Linked DNA regions of Homo sapiens. The protein of the gene in region 2 purifies or fractionates together with the protein of the main gene of each other region. This does not show direct contact. Each region holds a gene or a part of one and is shown on either strand. Other genes may lie near its edges. The genes, in order: CRYBB1, MOCS2 and CCDC134.

What was found.
Region 1: the proteins of MOCS2 (region 2) and CRYBB1 purify together in Homo sapiens (affinity purification with mass spectrometry; one large-scale study listed by BioGRID and IntAct). This does not show direct contact.
Region 3: the proteins of MOCS2 (region 2) and CCDC134 fractionate together in Homo sapiens (co-fractionation; one large-scale study listed by BioGRID). This does not show direct contact.

What each region holds. Positions count from the first base shown.
Region 1 is NC_000022.11:26,607,879-26,611,527, reverse strand, and holds part of CRYBB1 (beta-crystallin B1), read left to right. Parts: intron 1-3,465; coding exon of another isoform or gene 3,466-3,468; exon of another isoform or gene 3,469-3,506; coding exon 3,507-3,639; exon of another isoform or gene 3,640-3,649. Other genes in the region: CRYBA4 (beta-crystallin A4), read right to left, coding at 3,466-3,468. UniProt on the Homo sapiens protein: Crystallins are the dominant structural components of the vertebrate eye lens.
Region 2 is NC_000005.10:53,106,820-53,111,249, forward strand, and holds the start of MOCS2 (molybdopterin synthase catalytic subunit large subunit MOCS2B), read right to left. Parts: upstream 2,939-4,430; 5' UTR 2,911-2,938; coding exon of another isoform or gene 2,893-2,910; 5' UTR 2,432-2,892; intron 1,825-2,431; coding exon of another isoform or gene 1,703-1,824; intron 403-1,702; coding exon of another isoform or gene 356-402; coding exon 258-355; intron 1-257. UniProt on the Homo sapiens protein: Catalytic subunit of the molybdopterin synthase complex, a complex that catalyzes the conversion of precursor Z into molybdopterin.
Region 3 is NC_000022.11:41,814,129-41,817,777, reverse strand, and holds part of CCDC134 (coiled-coil domain-containing protein 134 isoform 1 precursor), read right to left. Parts: intron 1-3,649. UniProt on the Homo sapiens protein: Molecular adapter required to prevent protein hyperglycosylation of HSP90B1: during translation, associates with nascent HSP90B1 and the STT3A catalytic component of the OST-A complex and tethers them to a specialized translocon that forms a microenvironment for HSP90B1 folding.

The DNA.
Region 1 (3,649 bases), on a different chromosome or scaffold from region 2:
AGTCTGCAGTCCGGCCTGGGCGACAGAGCGAGACTCCGTCTCAAAAAAAAAAAAAAAACAAAAAAAAAAAAAACAAACTCTAGCCCATTACCGAGGGCTGAGAGAGGTCAAAGAGTGAAGTGTCCACTCGCTGTCCCCTCTCCTGGGCGTCCAGCTGCCTGGGAGTAATGATAAGCATCTGTGGCACACCCACCAGGTGCCAGGCACTGACTCGGGACCACACCTAGATGATTCACAGTGCTGTAGGAGGCAGAGGCTATTCTTATGCCCACTTGACAGATGGAAAGACTGAGGCTCAGAGGGGGTGAGTCTCTTACCCAAGGTCACCTATTGGTAAGTGGCACAGCCAGGATTCAACTCAGGTTGATTGAGTTCATTCCTAAAGCTCTTAATCACCATGCTTCACTGCCTGTTCCTGTCTCTGTGGGTGTCTCTGGGCCTTAGTGACTCCCATATAAAACAGGGATAGTCATCCTTGGGCAGAGTGGTTGCCCTATGTCCAGCCTGTGTGTGCTGAGGTCAGGGTGGAGGGGCAGCCCCAGGACAAGATCCACGCAGCTCGTTTGCTCTTGTCTCCCCCACTTTGAAAGCCTGCAAGGGTTCCAGTCATCCTGTATTCTGAGCCCATTCCGAGATGAGCTTTGAGGTCAGACAAGCCTGGGTTTGAGTCCTGACTTCCCCTGTTTGCCTTGTTCAGTGTGCAAGCCTCAGTTTCCCCATCTTTGAAATGGGGAGAAGGATGGCCCTCACCACTCCTCACAGGATTATGCTGAGGTCTGAGGGAGATCATACAGCATGGGCCTGTTACCTTGTGGGCACCCAAACATGGCAGGTGACTCTGATGGTCACGTACCCACCTCCCTGCCCGGTGAATTTAGCCAACTTATCCTGGAGGCTACCCGGGACCATTTCTACCTCCTGCACCCTCAGTGTGGTCAACGCAGCCTCAGCTCCACCCTCAGCCCCAAAACCCAGCTGGAAGCAGAAGCTACCGGATGTGGCCAGCATGGGTTTTCAGGCTTTTTTTGGTACCAGTGACTCAAACCCAGAGTATTTCTCCTCAAACAAAGATGCAGCTGGTGTCTGACGTGTGCCTTGGAGCCGTGCCTGATGGGCATGGAAACGGGCCTGTGGTCCGGGGGCCTGGGTCTGTGTGGGCGCTGGCAGGGCCATGGGAAAAAAAGAATGAAGAGGGTGAGGTAGGCATGGGGAAAGTGAGGAGGCCTGCCTGCCTGAAACCCAGGAGACTGCAGCCTGACACCCAACACCATCATGTGACCTTAGGCTGGGGACTTAACCCCTCTTAGCCTCAGTTTCCATATCTTATAAATTAAAATTCCTGCCCTACCCTCTCTCCCTGCTTGCGGGTTGAAATGAGCCATGGGAGATAAGAAAAGGCATAGATATAAACATTTAAAATTTAGATCCTCACTGGTCCTGCTGAAGAAGATAGGGGAGATTTTAGGGGGACTTGGGCATGGTGGCAAGACCACATCAGTGTCTGTTTTTCCAGAAGCCTAGACCTCCAGTTTCCTTCTCCCTTTAATCAGGAACAGTATTAATTTGGAGGCTTACTCTGTGCTGTATCTGTTCCATGCATTCCCTCTTTTAGGCCCTCATAATCTCCCAACAAGGTAGATGCAACAAAGTAGATGTATCATTTCTTCTCTGTTACTAAAGCTTAGCAGGTGTAAGTGCTGCCCAAATGCATGCAGCAAATGGCAAAGCTTGGATTAGAATTCAGGTCTGTCTGTTTCCAGGGTCTGTCCTCTTAACTCCTACATGAAACCACCTTCCAAGGCTCCCTTCTTATTCACCCATGCGTCTATCCACCCATTTATTCATCATCCATCTACTTACCCATGCATCTACCCATTCGTCTATTGATCTATCCATACATACATCCATTCTCCATTTATACACACGTACCCACCATGTGTTCTCCATCACCCACCCATCCATCTATAAATCTATCCATCTACCCACCCATCCATCTACCCATCTAGCTATCCATCAATTCAACCATCCCTTCATCCATCCCTTTATCCATGCATCCATTCATCTGTCCATCTACCCATCCACCTATCCATCTATTCAACCATCCTTTCATCCACCCATCCATCCACCCATTCATCTGTCCATCCATCCATCTATTCTCCCATTTATTTCTCTTCTACTCCAGACCAGACAGGGCTGAGGCAAATGCAACTCTATTCTGGGAAGACAAACATATCTTTAATTTACTCCAGTGTGGTTAACTCATCTCTCAGACAAAGACCTGAGGCTCCTGTGATGCATTCTGTCTCAGCCCATGGTGATAGCCCATCATCCTTGTCTCCTTCTGGGGAGAGCAGGGTCCCAGCAGCCCCCTGGGAGAAGATGCTAGTGTCAGTGTCCCCTCATCCGTCTCTTTTTTCCTAAGAACTCTTGAACACACGGGGAGCAAAGGTCAAGGAGTTCCTTAGTCTCAGCTTTCTCATCTACGGAATGGGGATTGTCTTATCTACCCCACCTGCACTGCCACAATCCCTGGTCCCTGTAACACAAGCTCACTTCTTGTCCTTAATCAATCTTCACTGGGAAAGCCAGGAAAATCTTCCATCTAATTTCAAACTTCTAATTAGTCCATGTAAGGAACCTAGCATCTTCATAAGCGCTATCACATTATATTACCATAGGTATCTGAGGGTAGATATTACCATCATTCCCTTCCCATTGCCTCATACTAGTTACTGAGTATCTCCCGAATACCAGGCCAGTATTTACCCAGCAAGGATGCAAACACCTGTATCAATTTTTCCCTTACCCCTGTACCTCCGAGACTGTCGTTCATTTAATATATTTCATTTAAAATGATCCTGCTAACCACAAATAAACACATTTTAAAAGAACCCTGACACCACTTTTTACAAATGGAAGGCTAGTATTATTTCCTATAAGTAAAAGGTATCCATACAAAATTAACAATAAACACAAAAGTGGTATTATTATGTTGCTATTACACCATTGTCTGCTGGAGGTTCTGGGCTAGTGGTCTTTTCTCTCTTTGTTACAAAAGAAAAAAAGGAGAGATTAGTAAGTGTTAAAGGCACATTAACATCAAACGAGCCTTTCTCCTAGCTGGCGTCAAGTTTCAAATGTCTATGTGTTCCTTGGCTCCAAGTCCTGATAGTACTTGAAGCATGTATGAACCTTACATCTAGAGAAACAGTGTGCTCAGATAATCACACACATTTATCTCACTTAATCCTTCACCAACTCCAAGGAAACAGGCATATGAGTGTAGATGAGAAACAAAGGCTCAGAGAGGTAAAGTCACTTGCCCATAGTCACACAGCCTGTAAGTGTCAGAGCCTAAAATCAAACCCAGACATGTTCAGCCCCCTTTGGACTTTCCTACTGTCCTCAGGGCTGCCTTGCCAGGGGAGAGAGAAAGGCAAGTAGGGAGTGGGGGCTTCTACTAACCATATGTCTCCTGTCTGCCTCATGGTCCTTCTTGTATCCAGCTGGGTCGCCTTTGAGCAGTCCAACTTCCGCGGGGAGATGTTCATCCTGGAGAAGGGCGAGTACCCTCGCTGGAACACATGGTCGAGCAGCTACCGCAGTGATCGGCTCATGTCCTTCCGGCCCATCAAAATGGTGAGTGGCT
Region 2 (4,430 bases):
GATCTCAATAAACCATGTTAAATGAAACATATCAAACTGATATGTTTATTGTAATTAAACTGCTTACAATAGACTTGATGCAGAAATGGTGCTAGATATTCATAAATCTGTTGGCACCAATGAAGAGTTGCTGCATCAATAAAGATTTGGTACAGACAGACTTACAAAGAATATACATTAACAGCAAACCACATACACTTTATCATCTGTATGATCCTTCCCCACACGACTGATTAAGAAAAACAAATCTCACATACCTAGATGGCTCAAAAGCACTATCCTCCACTAATGGGGGGGATAACGGCAATTTCGTCTCCAGGCTGAAGCACGAGGAGCTGATCTCCAAGCTCGACATATTCTTGACGAACAGCAAATATTATCTGATTTCTAACATCAGCCAATCTAAAGGGGAAAAAATATGACTCAAAGTATCAACGCTATGATAGACCTCAAATCGCTTCAGCTGCAATTAGAGATATTACATAGATATAATTATATAAAGCATCACCTGCAAAATTACCAATTAAATTTACACATAGTATATGGAGAAAGGACATATCCACTGAAGAACATACTTATACACCACAAAGATACGTTAAACTGCTGTCAACTCTTTATTGGATGTTGTATGCCTTGGGGAATTAAACAACAAAAAAATGCACAAAAAACCCACCAGACTGGAGGCAACACTCAAACCAGGTCAAAAGAAAAGTTTCCAATCAGTACATGGCCTTTCCAGGGTCCTTCTATCCATGTGTTCAAGCACAAGTATAACTGCCCACAAACTATGCCTGTACACATTATCCTACTCGAATATGGATTAAGTTGCTTAGAAAGATGAAAAAGATAGCATAGGTCATAAAGCCACCTGCAACACAGCTTTATTAGCTGTTCCTTTATACCTGAACAATGGTAAGCTTTCTTTTCAGGCACAGTGAAAACGTATACAAGACCTGCTGTCTCCCTCCAGGTAAAGCAGAATGGGAGACCCCACTGTGTTTTATTGATTATCAGGCCACTGTAAGAGCAACTTAAAAGATACGAAATCATGAAGTGGTTTGCTTTTAAACACTTATTATGGAGTATCTTTTACACAGAACTAGGACTTCCAGGTTAAACACCTATACAAGCTAAGTAACACCATTAATATTCCTGAATCACCCTCAAATAAGTCACTTTTATATTTTGTTCCAAAAAGAACTTGAAGTGGGAATGACATAAGTAAAATTATAGGTTTTTCAAGAACCAGAAAAAAAATTAAATATTACAAAAACTCAAATTCAGCAGCATCTAGGATTTGTTGTAACTCATTTTTCTTTCAATCTTAGAAATTTCTATGTTGAGCTCTCTAAAGAGAGGGGCAGAACAAAATGTTTAAAGCACACATTTTTAACAGAATTTGTAACAATTTCATTTAATGTTATAAAATTGCAGAAGTGACATGTGCAGTGTTTTGTAAATTATCAAAGAGAATATAATCATGTCCCTCTGCGGTTCACTGTGTTTTGGGGTAAAATATCTTTAACCTTTCTTAAAATACGGTGCACATTTAGAGTTTTTCAGGTGTTCCAAAAAAAATACAACTAACGATTCTTTTTGACATTAAGCACGGAAATCGAAATTAACCTTTTTACTTTTATCATTTATGTATTTTGAAAATATCTAAGTGTTACTCATATGCATTCTACAAATTTTTAACTACCCAGGATGTCGAGTTTCTATCTCCTTCCACAGCTGCAACGCTTTTATTTCTTGAGGCACAGAAATGGTCTCTGAACGAACTCCTGTTATTTCAGCACTTTTTGCAAAATACAATACTTCAACCTGAAAGTAAAGAAAATGCTTTTAATAACAACTCATACTCGTTTTCTGACTGTCAATGTTGAGCAGTTTTCTCATTTTCCAAATGTATTGCTTTAATCAAAGACAAATTTTATAAAGAAAATTAAATAACCCGTAAAAAATTTCAGTATACCTACAAGTTCAAATTCTGAAAACTTGTTGTTTTAAATACAATTCAGACTAATTTCTGGATGCCTTTTAGTTTTACAAACTTAAGTGTGCCATCATTAAAATCCTAAGTATTTATCTTCTAGGAAAACATGTTAAGCCTGCCTTAATTGACATAAAAGTATAGCACCTTTTATAAATATGTAAGCAAAGAACAAATGTTTGAGTCAAGAGATGAGTTACACAAATAAAATAAATGAATAAATAAGCGAAAAACCTGTTTCTCACGGTTGTCAAATGACCTTAGATTCCGGTCTGTATAACATCGTCCCCAGACGCTAAGGATTAAGTTATGCAACATAGTAAATCTGACATTTACAGAAGCAAGTAGGTTTGAAACACACGACAGACTGGAATTTGCTAGAACAAACTTGTGCCAGCAGCCTGGTATGTAAGGGATCCGACGAAGTAAAATAGGCACCTGTCACTCCGTGCAAACAACTCTTTACGAAATAATTACAGGTTTGCAAATGATCAAGGGTGTAGAAATCCACAGATGAAGCACAGTTCTTCACAAGAATTCTCCATGAGGTGCATTTCTTTTTAGATTAAAATTTTAGCTTCATCAAAACGAATAATCTGGGAAAGAGGTGGTCATAAAAGGTGGAGGCGCCTTCAGAACGAGTCCGTCCTTGCTGCCGTGAGCTGACAAGAGTTCTCGGAGAGGACCCGACTTCTGCTGGGGCAGTCGCAGTAAAGCCCGGAGACAGGAAGGGCCCGGGGGCGGGGGCGGGGGCGCCCCCGAACCCAAGACGCCGGCCAGGTTGGGGGCTAGTGGGGAGGTCCGACTGACCAAGGCTGGGTATGTGGAGGGAAAGGGCGGGAGAGACACGTCGAGGAGGGCTCCGCACCCAGGCCCGCACGCACACCCGCCACCCTTACCTGGCACAGCGGCACCATCCCGCCTAGGACAGCGGGACCGAATCACGGCCGCAAAGGCGCAGGCGCGGGCTCACCCGGAGCGCAGGCGTAACCCGACGGCGCTCAGCCCCCGCCTGCGCCTGCACGGAGCATGCGCACAACCAGCTCCGCCCCGCGCCGGGCTCTAGCTGTTTCCCTCAGGCGGCCTGTTCCACGCCAGGATTAGTTTTGCTTCGCAGATGGGCCGTGGTGGTGAGAGGAAGCAATCAGTATGGAAATGGAGAAATGGCTTACCATGCATGTCCTTCTCCCCAGGAGGGAGGTCGTGGTGCAGGCGAGCAGACGCCAGACTCCTGGACACTTGCCGCCTGCGTTATGGAGGCTTAGCTAATAACCTTGCAGGGGTCTTCAGGCTTTTCCACTGGCTCACCTTTAGGCTTCTGACACTTTTACCTACGGTATGTGAACCTCGAAAATTTGAGACAGGTCTCAGTTAACTTAGAAAGTTTATTTTGCCAACGTTGAGGACATGCCCGTGACACAGCCTCAGGAAGTCCTGAGGACATGTGCCCAAGGTGGTCAGGGCACAGCTTGGTTTTATACATTTTGGGGAGACAGGAGACATCAATCAATATGTAAAAAGTACATTAGTTCCTTCCAGAAAGGCGGAGACCGTTAAAAGCAAGCCCCGCCCCCCCCAACTGGGGGCTTCCAGGTAGGTAATAGACAGTAGCATTCTTTTGAGTTTCTGATAAGTCTTTCTAAAGGAGGCAATCAGAATATGCATCTATTCTTTGTCAGCAAAAGAGGTGACTTGGATAGAATAGGAGGCAGATTTGCCCTGAGTAATTCCCAGTTTGAAGGGGCCCAAGATTTTTTTCTTTCCCAGGTATATGATTAGTGTTTCTTAAAGACAGAATATCCGCCTGGTCAGAACATTCGAACTGTATGACTTTTCCTGTTTATTGGCTGCTCGGTAATTGTATACTGTCCGTCCAACTTTCCCAATTCTTGCCAACAAGAACTCTTGGCTTTAAATTGCTTGCGTCGTTAAGTGGATGTAAGTTACACGTCCCTTTCCTTGGAGCTCACAGTCCTGGGTAGGAGAGTTTTAAATATGAATGATAATTCCCTGTAATACTAAGGATCTGTGTTACATTTCAAGGGTGGAAGGGGAAAGTGGTTGTGTCACCTGGGGAGTGAGAAGATGCTGAGAAGGTAAATCTGCTAGAATGGTGGCAGTAAATGACAAGAGTGGGAGTAGAGCACGAAGAAATTTCACTTGCCTCTGACAAGCCACAGGGATATGAAGAAGCATAATAAGTTCACAGAAGGGCAAGTAGTTGGCAAGGCAGGTGTGCCTCCAGCAAAGGAGGTGATGAGAAGTGAGGCTGGAGAGTCCTTGGTAGGAAAAATTGACAAGGAGCAATGAATACCAATGTGTATCCTGGTAAAGTTGCTAAACATAAAGGATAAAGACTATATTCACACCCAGGCATAAAAACAAGGGAATGACAATAGTGGCCTTAGACTCCTCAGTGGCATCTGATGGCAATGTG
Region 3 (3,649 bases), on a different chromosome or scaffold from region 2:
CTCTCTTTTTATTTATTTATTTATTTATTTATTTATTTATTTATTTAAGACAGAGTCTTGCTCTGTTGCCCAGGCTGGAGTGCAGTGGTGCAATCTCACCTCACTGCAACCTCTGCCTCCCGGGTTCAAGCGATTCTCCTGCCTCAGCCTCCCGAGTAGCTGGGACTACAGGCATGCGTCACCTCGCCCGGCTAATTTTTGTATTTTTAGTAGAGACAGGGTTTCACCATGTTGGCCAGGATGGTCTCAAATTTCTGACCTCAGGCAATCCGCCTGCCTCGGTCCCTAAGTGCTGGGATTACAGGTGTGAGCCACCATGCCTGGCGATACCTACCCCTCACCCCTCTTTAGGGCCACAGACTATGGAAACAAATTGTGGTGACAAACTAGACAGCCTGGCTCACTCGTTTAGATGCCCATCATAAAGCTCAATCTCTGAAAAGACCAAATGGAGTCAAACTGCTGATCAAGCCTACTTCATCCAGATCACTGCCACTGCCACCTAAACATATCATTCTACTTGGCATGGTAACATACCCACTACCAAGGAGTGGCACAAAACAGAGGACTGTATATTTCTGGTTCAACTACCTGAGTCTCTGGTTGGAATGGTACAGCCTGAGATTGTTAGGATTGTGACCACTTGGCTGAGTATCCTGCTTGCTGATTTCCCTGCAGTGGCCCATGTGGGTAAAGAGAAGAGATATAACAGGTCTCTATACATCTGTAAAAATGCCCTGGTCCCATTCATACCTGACATTTCTGAATGAAAGATCTAAGTGATAGTAGGCAACAACTGGAGAAAAAGTGAAACTATAGATGCTGGCATAGGACATATGCTTTTTGTTTTGTTTTGTTTTTGTGAGACAGTCTCACTCAGTCGCCAGGCTGGAGTGCAGTGGTGCGATCTTGGCTCACTGCAGTCTCCGCCTCCTGGGTTCAAGCAATTCTCCTGCCTCAGCCTCCTGAGTAGCCAGGACTCCAGGCATGCGCCACCACACCCGGATAATTTTTGTATTTTTAGTAGAGACGGGGTTTCACCATGTTGGCCAGGATAGTCTTGATTTTCCTGACCTCATGATCCGCCCACCTCGGTCTCCCAAGGACACATGGATTTTATAGCAATAATCCTGCCACCTGGGGAGGATATACCTTAGATCCCAGAAAGTGCAGGGAACAATTAATGTTCTCTTTATCCCTTAGATCCATCACTGCCACCTGGCAAAACAATCCTAGGGTCTGCCCAAGCCCAGTGGCAGCTGCAGCTGTCAATATGGCCAACTGTTGGGTGTCTCATTTCCATCCACATGATAGGAAAACTCACATGGACACGTCAGTACTGAGCTATTCTGCTGTGTCTAATGCCATCAAAGGTAGTTCTCAACAGTGACCTTGTGCAGACACACCAGCCAGCACAATTTTGTTTCAACCTGACAGATACAAATTCATCTGCTTTTCCTGATGTCTGAGTAGCCTTGGATTATACCATGTAGGCAACTGAGGCTGAAGCTCCACAGTGACACTGCCCTCAGGCTCAACTAAACATTGTTCTGGTGACTCAAATCAAGCGTAACATGTGGGAGAGAATGGGTCATGGAATGTCTCCTTATGGGGGCATGAGGGTTGCTTGGGTCCATCTATTGCCCCCTGTACTTATTGGCAGTAACATCAAAGATTGGCAGGTCAATCTAAACTCTCTTATGTGGGTGGTCGTGGATAACAGATTGGTCTTAGACAATATCCTGATTATCCAAAATGAGACTTACTGGTCCTCCAGGACCTTCACAGCTGGTTGAGTCCAGGACCCTGTTCAATATTGCAGGTTAGGGGCCAGACACAGTGACTCACACCTATAATCCCAACACTTTGGGAGGCTGAGACAGGAAGATGGCTTGAGCCCAGGAGTTTGAGATCACCCTAGGCAGCACAGCAAGAACCTGTCTCTGAAAAAAATAATAAATTAATTAGCCAGGAATGGTGTCGCACAGGCCTGTCGTCCCAGCTACTCAGGAGGCTGAGGTGGGAGGTCTGTTTGAGCCCAGGAGTTCAAGGTTACAGTAAGCTAGGTGGGTGACAGAGCTTGGGTGACAGAGCAAGACCCTGTCTATAAAAAAAATAATAATAATGTAGGTTGGCCTTACCCTGCTATTCAGAATATAGTTGATAGTAATCTTAATTAAATGAAGTATGAGACTAATTGACAGATTTGGTCCTAGCCTCTATCAGTCAGATCAATCAGACTGAATAGCACATTCGTGTGAAAATTTGAGTTAGGCCGGGTGCGGTGGCTCACGCTTGTAATCCAAGCACTTTGGGAGGCCGAGGCGGGTGGATCACGCGGTCAGGAGATCAAGACCATCCTGGCTAACATGGTGAAACCCCGTCTCTACTAAAAATACAAAAAATTAGCCAGGTGTGGTGGCGGGCGCCTGTAGTCCCAGCTACTGGGGAGGCTGAGGCAGGAGAATGGCGTGAACCCAGGAGGCAGAACTTGCAGTGAGCCGAGATCGCGCCACTGTACTCCAGCCTGGGCGACAGAACGAGACTACATCTCAAAAAAAAAAAAAAAAAAAGAAAAGAAAAGAAAATTTGAGTTAAACCAAGCCATGGAGGGCTTGGGCTTGGGGCAGACTGTTGGGGTGGCAATCCATCATGGCCCTGAGCATCCCTGCATATTCTTGCAGGGCACACCAAAGATACAAAGCCCTAACCACTCTTTACCTGGGCCATGTCTTAGGATTGTGTTTGCAGAGAGCAACCTCGAACGGTGTGGTGATGTCTCTTCCCAAAGAGCACATTTGCTGCGGTTCACTATAAAAATCATGAATTTCTCCAGCTTGGCAGTTCTCAGCTATGATGCACACCCCCTGCATGCACAGCGCCCACCTGGCCCCTCTGTGTCACCTCCGTGGGAGTTAGGGAACAAGATGAACCAACACAACCAGGCCAACAGTCTAGCTAGTGCCTTTGCTGTAATACAGTCCAATGTCTCTGACCTATCAGTGTCCATGAAACAGTAGCAGGCTAGCTTGTTGGCCTGGAGGCAGAATTAAATCCTAGACCCTTGAGACACCCAACACCCCTCCCGACACCAGGGTTTGACAAGTCCAGTCCTCCAGCCACCACAGCCCTTCCTTCCTGCCCCTCCTAGCCCTGTCACTTCCAATCCCTTCCTCCATCTATCGTATCTGTCCCCCCTTTTTTTTTTTTGATACGGAGTTTCACTCATGTTGCCCAGGCTGGAGTGCAATGGCACGATCTCAGCTCACTGCAACCTCCACTTTCCGGGTTCAAGCGATTCTCCTGCCTCAGTCTCCTGAATAGCTAGGATTACAGGCATGCACCACCACGCCTGGCCAGTTTTTTGTATTTTTAGTAAAGACAGAGTTTCACCATATTGGCCAGGCTAGTCTCGAACTCCTGACCTCAGGTGATCCACCCGCCTCGGCCTCCCAAAGTGCTGGAATTACAGATGTGAGCCACCGTGCCCGGCCTGTCCTCATCTTTTATCCCAAACTTGGTCTCCAGCTCTCAAAGCCCACCTCAGCCCCCTGGAACCCCTGGAATGAGAGCATGTACAGGAGTGCGGGATGGAAGCCCAGTTGGTGCTCAGAGGTTCAAAGGCAGGGAAGAGCATGGCCTGATCTCC